2 linked regions of the Homo sapiens genome follow. The protein of the gene in region 1 purifies or fractionates together with the protein of each later gene. This does not show direct contact. Each region holds a gene or a part of one and is shown in the gene's direction. Other genes may lie near its edges.

Region 1 (3,500 bases):
TATTGAACCAATGAGGGGATAAGCTTATGTAGGTTAGATCTAAAAGACAGCTACTGTGCAGATCTAAAGGATCTAATGAATGAAAATCAGTTGGTTGAAGTTATAGAAAGGCAAATTTTAGCTCCATATTGAGAGACTTAACTGCAAAAGTGTTACCAGCTTACTGGGAAGGCTGTGTGTCTATAAACTATAGTCCACATCTGAGTGCCTTAGATAAAGCATTCTTAAATTCAGGGAAGGGAGAGTATGATTCTCTCCAGGGAATCAGAAAAGATTGCAAGGAAGGAGGGAAAATATAAGTTAGGTTTTAATCGCAGTTAAGACTTGGATACCCTAAAAGTGTGGTTTTAGAAGAAAATGAGAGGAAGTAGGGGACATTTTAGGTCAGTGAACCACACAGGCAAGAGCACCAAAGCAAGGAGTGTCTTCAGCTTCTATGTGAGGTGATAGGGTGTAATTCACTTTACTTGGAGAGTGGTGATCCAATGATTCCCCTGCCATTTGTTTTGTAAGTTAATCAAAATAGGAGCCGAAAATTCAGTCAGCTCAGCGTGCAGGATCATTGCATTATGAAACTGAACGTATTTTTGAGAACTGAACGTATATATTTTGAGTCGTGTGTCGATCAGGATTTCATAAAGAAATTATGATGTGATTCTTTCACAAAGGATCTTGCCCTATGTACCTTTAATAGTGTCTTTCTGCAAACATGTATCTAATATATAGGGAAATACTTTTATTTGGAATCTCTGAATCAAGAGGGTTGTTTCTTTGAATGATTTTGTTAAAATGATCAAAGAATATTTTTCTAGATGCTCACAGGAGAGCCACAATTACACCATTAGAGATAAATTTATTTGGTCTTGAGTGTCACTTTTCAGGATGTTCCTCATAAGTTGCAACTATTCCTATCAAGTATTTAATATGAGCTTCAACTAATAAGGAAACATTAATTATTAGCCAAGTGGGAACAAATTCCAGTAGGATTAGAACATAGGATGGGAAGAGATTTAGGGGCAGGGACATGTGTGCATAAGGAAGGTGAGATTCTTAGGTGCCAATGATGAAATTTGCTTACATCATAATTACATTATTTTTAAAGGAAGTTTGGTGTATTCCTTAACTTGGCTTTAACATTTAGCAGGAGCCCCTTTCTATTTCAGTTTCATTTTCAGCATAGTAGCCTTTCTATACTTTTTCTATAAGACTTGGGCAACTGATCCAGGCTTCACTAAGGCTTCTGAAGAAGAAAAGAAAGTGGTGAGATTTCTTCGTTACTGATATTTTTAATAGGAGGGTTTGTAAACTTTAGAAAGTTTATATGCACATATGCAGATGTGTTGCTTTTTGTTACGGCTGCATGACATGTGGGGTGATATAGCAAAAATTAGATTTCCACTCTTACAGTTTTTTCATTTATGTATATGAAAGTTTTAACACATATTTTTATTTTCTGTTGAAATAATACCCCACCAAGACTTTTTCAGATGTGATTCCTTTTAGGAATATGATCTCCTACTTCCTTGTAATAACATTTTCATAATGGTCATTTAGCTTACATTTCCCCACTAAATAAATGGAGAGTAACTAGTCAGTGACCAGGGAGAGTCCTTCTGCTTATTGGCTGAGGAGATGCCCCTCCTCCTCCTCAAATGTGAAGTTGTCAGATGACATGGCATGTTTTCCGTTGCTCATGAATGTTTAGAAGTTGGAGAATGTTGTCTTTGTTACCTAAAGCCAGTGTTCCTGAAAGACCCAGCCCTTGGTGCTTGTAACTTTCAGTTTTGATGTATACTGGTGGGTTTTTCTTTTTTAATGTGTGTGTATATTTGCATATTTATTTTTCTCTAGCAGATCATAACTGGGAGATGATTGCCATTCACAGAGATGAGGTGATAGGTGGGAGTGGTGGGGTGGTATAATTTTTATGCATCCTAATTTATTAGCTGTTGGTTGAAAATGCAACCTTGAAGAGTCACATCATTTCAAGCACAGAATGATTTGGTGGCAAGTATTCCAAATTGCTTTTCTAACTACTTCAGTTTGGAGCGAGAACTGTGAGAATGGTGTATAACCATGCATAATACATTTTCCAATAAAATGTGGTAATAGGTCAAACTTCATGTCTTTCAGAATATCATCACCCTTGCAGAAACTGGCTCTCTGGACTTCAGAACATTTTGTACATCATGTCTTGTGAGTTTTTTCATATAATTTTTTTCCGTAGTGAAAGCAAAGTCTTGGTAACGTTGCTGATGTAAGCATTTGTCAGATCTTCATGGTATATTTATACACCTTTGTTTTTACCCATTTCTAATTTTACATTCCTGTCTGAACAGCTTTCTGTCTTGAACATATGGCAGAATGATGTTTATAATCTCTTGAAGTTGTCTCTGGTTACATCTCTCCGTGAATTATCCATTGTGTGTTTTATTTGCTTTTCTCTGTCATGAAGCATATATTAGAACTAACGTCAAATCAGAGGCTCATAATGACCTTAGAAACCACTTAGTGAAACCTCTCATTTTGCAATTGAGGAATCAAGGGAGGAAGTAAATTCTCCCAAATTATTGGTGGTGCTAAAAATGGAACTTGGGTTTCCTTCCCTTGGTTGAGTGCTTATTTTGCTCTGTGGTACTGCCTCATTTCTGCTTAGCCAGTGTGAACAGGCTCTGGAATTCAGATCCCACTTAGTGATGTCCTAATCAAAGTAGACATATGGAAGTAAATACTAATAAGGCATTCCACAGCCTCTGTGTGAATTGATGGTCTGTTTAGGATTTGTGCCAATGCCTCTGTGACCTAAAGTTAAAATTTTGCTTGTGATTTGTTACCACTTTGAGACACTGGTTTTTGCTTAGGCCTCTCTTAATTGCCCACTTAGATAAGGAAGCCATTAAGGTCACTCCACTGCCATGTATGCAACTGCTGTGTGGCTCGATATGATCAACACTGCCTGTGGACTGGACGGTGCATAGGTGAGAGATTTAATTTTTCAATTACTACTGTGAAGTTAAGCATATGTTTAGTTATGACTCACAGAAAAAGTGGAAGGGCATCCTAGGGCTCCATTTTCAATATTCTAGTATTCCAATAGCAATGGGCCCATGCATCGTTATTATGCTACAGGTAACATAATATTTGCACATGCATCATTCTGTTTGGTAGCCACAGGCCTGTGAAGTAGACAGAAAAAATATTATCTCCATATTACTTGTAAAAACGCTAGATCAGAGAAGTTAAAACACTTAACTTACAGTGACACAACTAGTAATACATAAGCCTAGGTCTCCTGATTCCAATGGGTGTTGTTCCTTCTGCCGGGTTTTGCTGCTCCAGGAGAAGGTCGGACCATGATGTAGTAGCTGAGGAGTATTTGTGTCATTAGCATTGAAATGCTCCCATCTCCAGCATTGAGAAGGCAGCGTGTGCAAGAGAAGACTTAGCTGCCTTGCCCTTCCCGCTTTCTTCCCTTCTGTAGAAGTTTCTCAGATTGTGGG
Region 2 (3,500 bases), about 56 Mb from region 1:
AAGAAACTCATTACTGAGACCCTGCTGTGTGCCAGGTCCTGGGCTAGGGTCTGTGACTTTTGTTATCTCACCTGTGAGGTTGATAATGTTAGCCCATTTTACAGCTAAAGAAACTGAGGCCCCAGCTCTGTGTCTGGGAAGTGAAATTGCACCTTTTTAGTCCGTTCCAAAGCCCTCACCACTCCCTGGCTCCCCAGTGCTAGGCTGTGTCACAAAAGAGGGGAGTGGCTGGGGAACATCGTGGCCAGAGGGAGAGAAGGTGGGAACAGGATTGTCTTCAGTGGGAATGAATGAGATCAGCCATGGGAATCCTTCCCACCTCACCTCTTCACTGACAGAGCAGGGCAGGGGGATCGGGGGTGTCCTCCCTCCCTCCTTCCCTCCGACCATCCCTCATGGACCTGGTCTTCGCCCAATCCTTGGTTTGGTGCTGACCCCCAGTGGCAGCAACGGGTATGACAGTCCTCAGATGAGACCCAACTAGGGAGGCTTGAATCCCAACTGTCCTAAGCATAAAGACCCTCATGAGTACACATCTCTAAGGGGCACATGGGGAAACTGAGACCCACAGAGAAATATACCCAAAGTCAGGACAATAGTTAATGGCAGAGTCAAGGCTAGAACCAGAGCTGGGTGTGGTGGCATGCACCTGTAGTCCCAGCTATTTGGGAAGTTGAAGCGGGAAGATTGCTTGAGCCCAGGAGTTTGAGGCTGTTGTGAGCTGTGATTGTGTCACTGCACTACAGCCTGGGTGACAGCAAGACCTTGTCTCTTAAAAAAATGCTAGAACCAGGATCATGTAAGGGGAAAACAGTTGCTATTTATTAAGCACTTACTGTGTATATCAAGCAGTGTGCTAGAGGCTTTTAATTCACGTAACAGTCCAGGGAGGGAAATAATGCTGTCATGTTTATATAGATGAGGAAACTGGTCCCGCACTGAAACTCTACCATCCCATCTACCCTCTCTTCCAGGTCTCCCCCCTGGACTTGTCTCAGGGTATAACCCTTGGTATAACCAAGGGTATAACCTGAATTTCACATTCAGCCCCAGCCCAAGACTGCCAGAGAGCCACAGAGGACTGTAAAAAAGCCCTCCAGCCCCAGTGTCTAGCTCAGTGCCTGGGATAGAGCAATGATAACATAGTGACCATAGCTACCATGTGTCAAGTGCTAGCTACATGTCAGGCATTTATATGCATCAACACTAACCAGCCCTGCCTCCCCCGCCCCCAGTAAAACCAATGAGGTAGGCATGATTTAATAGATGAGGAAGCTGAACTTCAGAGAAGCTGAGTGGGTGCCCAGGGTCACACAGCTACTCTGTGGAGGGGCCAGAATTAGAACCAGGCCTAGCCCAGCCTCCCAACATGAAAGACTTTCCATTGGCTGGGGAGGGTACATCAGCTGAATCTTGGCTCTCCCTTCACCACCCCTTCTTCCCCAGCTGGCTCCAGAGCACACGCTCATGTCCTTCCGGAAGGCCCTCGAGCAGAAGCTGTACGGGCTCCAGGCTGACATTACCATCAGGTAGGTGTAGCGGAGGGGAGATAGTTCCTCTACCCCTCCCACACGCTTCGGCATCCACCTGGGTCTCTGCTGGGGGAACCTCTGGTCTCAGAGCCTCTGAGATGGGAGGAGGAAGACTTAGATTATCCACAGCAGGGCAGGCACCCTGTTCCTGCAGACTCCAGGATGTAAAATAGAGGAAAGAACAAATGCTCTTGGTGCAAGCAGGAGCACTGCCACAGAGCCACTTGAAGGGAAAAATAGATGATAGAGCTACAACACTCTCATGAGGGAAATAAAGCAAGTTGCAGAGTGATACATTCACTGTGACTCCAGTTACGTTTTAAAATACCACAAAAAAGTGACATATACACTTTCTCCATGTACATATATAAGTAGATATTAGTATAAATGGCAGGAAGAATCCATACTAATCTCATAACAGAGGTTATCTGAGAAGGGAAGAAGGGCAGAACTGTCATATATAGTTGTACAGGTTGCATACTGAACAAGGGCATCACATAAATGAGGACATTGTTCCCAGTATAGACATAGAATTGTGTGTTTATCACAACTTTCTAGCAGATGGTGGTAAAATGCCTTGAGGAACAGAGGGCACAGGTACCTTTTACTGTTTCACACTAAGGCACCATATGAGCTATTTGCAACCCTGGTAGAGTAGACAAGGATTGGGGTTGGGTGGAATTTGCCAAAGAGGTCTACATTTGCACTGTTCTCATCATAGCATCACAGGGATTTGGTTCCAAACTGGGTTCCACCACTTACAGGCTGTGGACCTTGAGCTAGATACTTCCCTCTCTCAGCCTCAGTTTCTCCATTGTCAAATGAGGCAGCACCTACCTTCCAAGGTTGCTAAGAGAGTAGGTCCAGATTTTTCCCAGCCCTCCCTCCTTGGCAGTCCCCACCCCCATCTGACCCTCACAGAGAGCCAGAAGGCATTGGACCTTCAGGGTCACCCACCAGCCCACTGTCTTCCCTGTGCAGATGGGGAGACTGAGGCCCAGAGAGGGGCAGAGCCAGCCGGGATCCTGTGCTGGGTGGGGAGGACTGTGTGGGGTGACGATCATTGGTGGGCAGGTAAAGGATCTGGGGGGTCACTGACTCGGTGGCCCCACCCTCCCTGCAGCCTGGACGGCGTGCCCTTCCTCATGCATGACACCACCCTGCGGCGCACCACCAACGTGGAGGAGGAGTTCCCGGAGCTGGCCCGCAGGCCTGCCTCCATGCTTAACTGGACCACCCTGCAGAGACTCAACGCTGGCCAGTGGTTCCTGAAGGTCTGGCTGCACCTGATCCCAATCTTAGGCATGGAAAACACCAGCAGGGACTGCAAGGAGTGAGAGGTGCAAGGGTGGCCATCAGCTTCGAGACCCCCACTCTCAGAGCTTTCGCGACCTCCACCCAAGCTGCTTAGTGGCCTCCTAGGCTCCTGCCACTGCTGCCAGACTCATGGTTGTCACTGCTTGTTCTGGGTCCATTTCCCTCACTAGAAAAGGTTGACAGGGATGAGAGCAGTGAATAGAATTCTTAACTCTGTAAAACTCTAGAGAGGGGTTGGCTCTCTGATCTGAAATGCTCTAGAAGGAGAAATGCTGTGGGTCTGGGAGCGATTCCAAGCAAGCCGTCCTCCGTCCTCTTGGTAAGCAGGGTGTGGGGTAGAAAGGTTAGGGCTGGGGCCTCCTACAGCCTCCACATGGCCACAGCCATCAATCTGCCTGACCCCAGCAGACTCTGGCAGCCCAGGGGTCTCCACGCTTGGTTGCCAGAAGGGTATGTGGGGGCCCCCAAAGGGCTGATGATGCAGCCATGTGTGTGTCCCTGTCCCTGCCAGACTGACCCCTTCTGGACAGCCAGCTCCCTGTCACCCTCCGACCACAGAGAGGCCCAGAACCAGTCCATCTGCAGCCTGGCAGAGCTCCTGGAGCTGGCCAAGGGCAATGCCACACTGCTGCTCAACCTGCGTGACCCGCC

The links. The genes of interacting proteins can lie anywhere in the genome.
Region 2: the proteins of ZDHHC13 (region 1) and GDPD5 purify together in Homo sapiens (co-immunoprecipitation; one large-scale study listed by IntAct). This does not show direct contact.

Annotation. Positions count from the first base shown.
Region 1 is NC_000011.10:19,162,168-19,165,667, forward strand, and holds part of ZDHHC13 (palmitoyltransferase ZDHHC13), read left to right. Parts: intron 1-1,135; coding exon 1,136-1,260; intron 1,261-2,133; coding exon 2,134-2,196; intron 2,197-2,884; coding exon 2,885-2,978; exon of another isoform or gene 2,979-2,980; intron 2,981-3,500. UniProt on the Homo sapiens protein: Palmitoyltransferase that could catalyze the addition of palmitate onto various protein substrates. Palmitoyltransferase for HTT and GAD2. May play a role in Mg(2+) transport.
Region 2 is NC_000011.10:75,442,442-75,445,941, reverse strand, and holds part of GDPD5 (glycerophosphodiester phosphodiesterase domain-containing protein 5), read left to right. Parts: intron 1-1,446; coding exon 1,447-1,529; intron 1,530-2,655; coding exon 2,656-2,806; intron 2,807-3,360; coding exon 3,361-3,500. UniProt on the Homo sapiens protein: Glycerophosphodiester phosphodiesterase that promotes neurite formation and drives spinal motor neuron differentiation.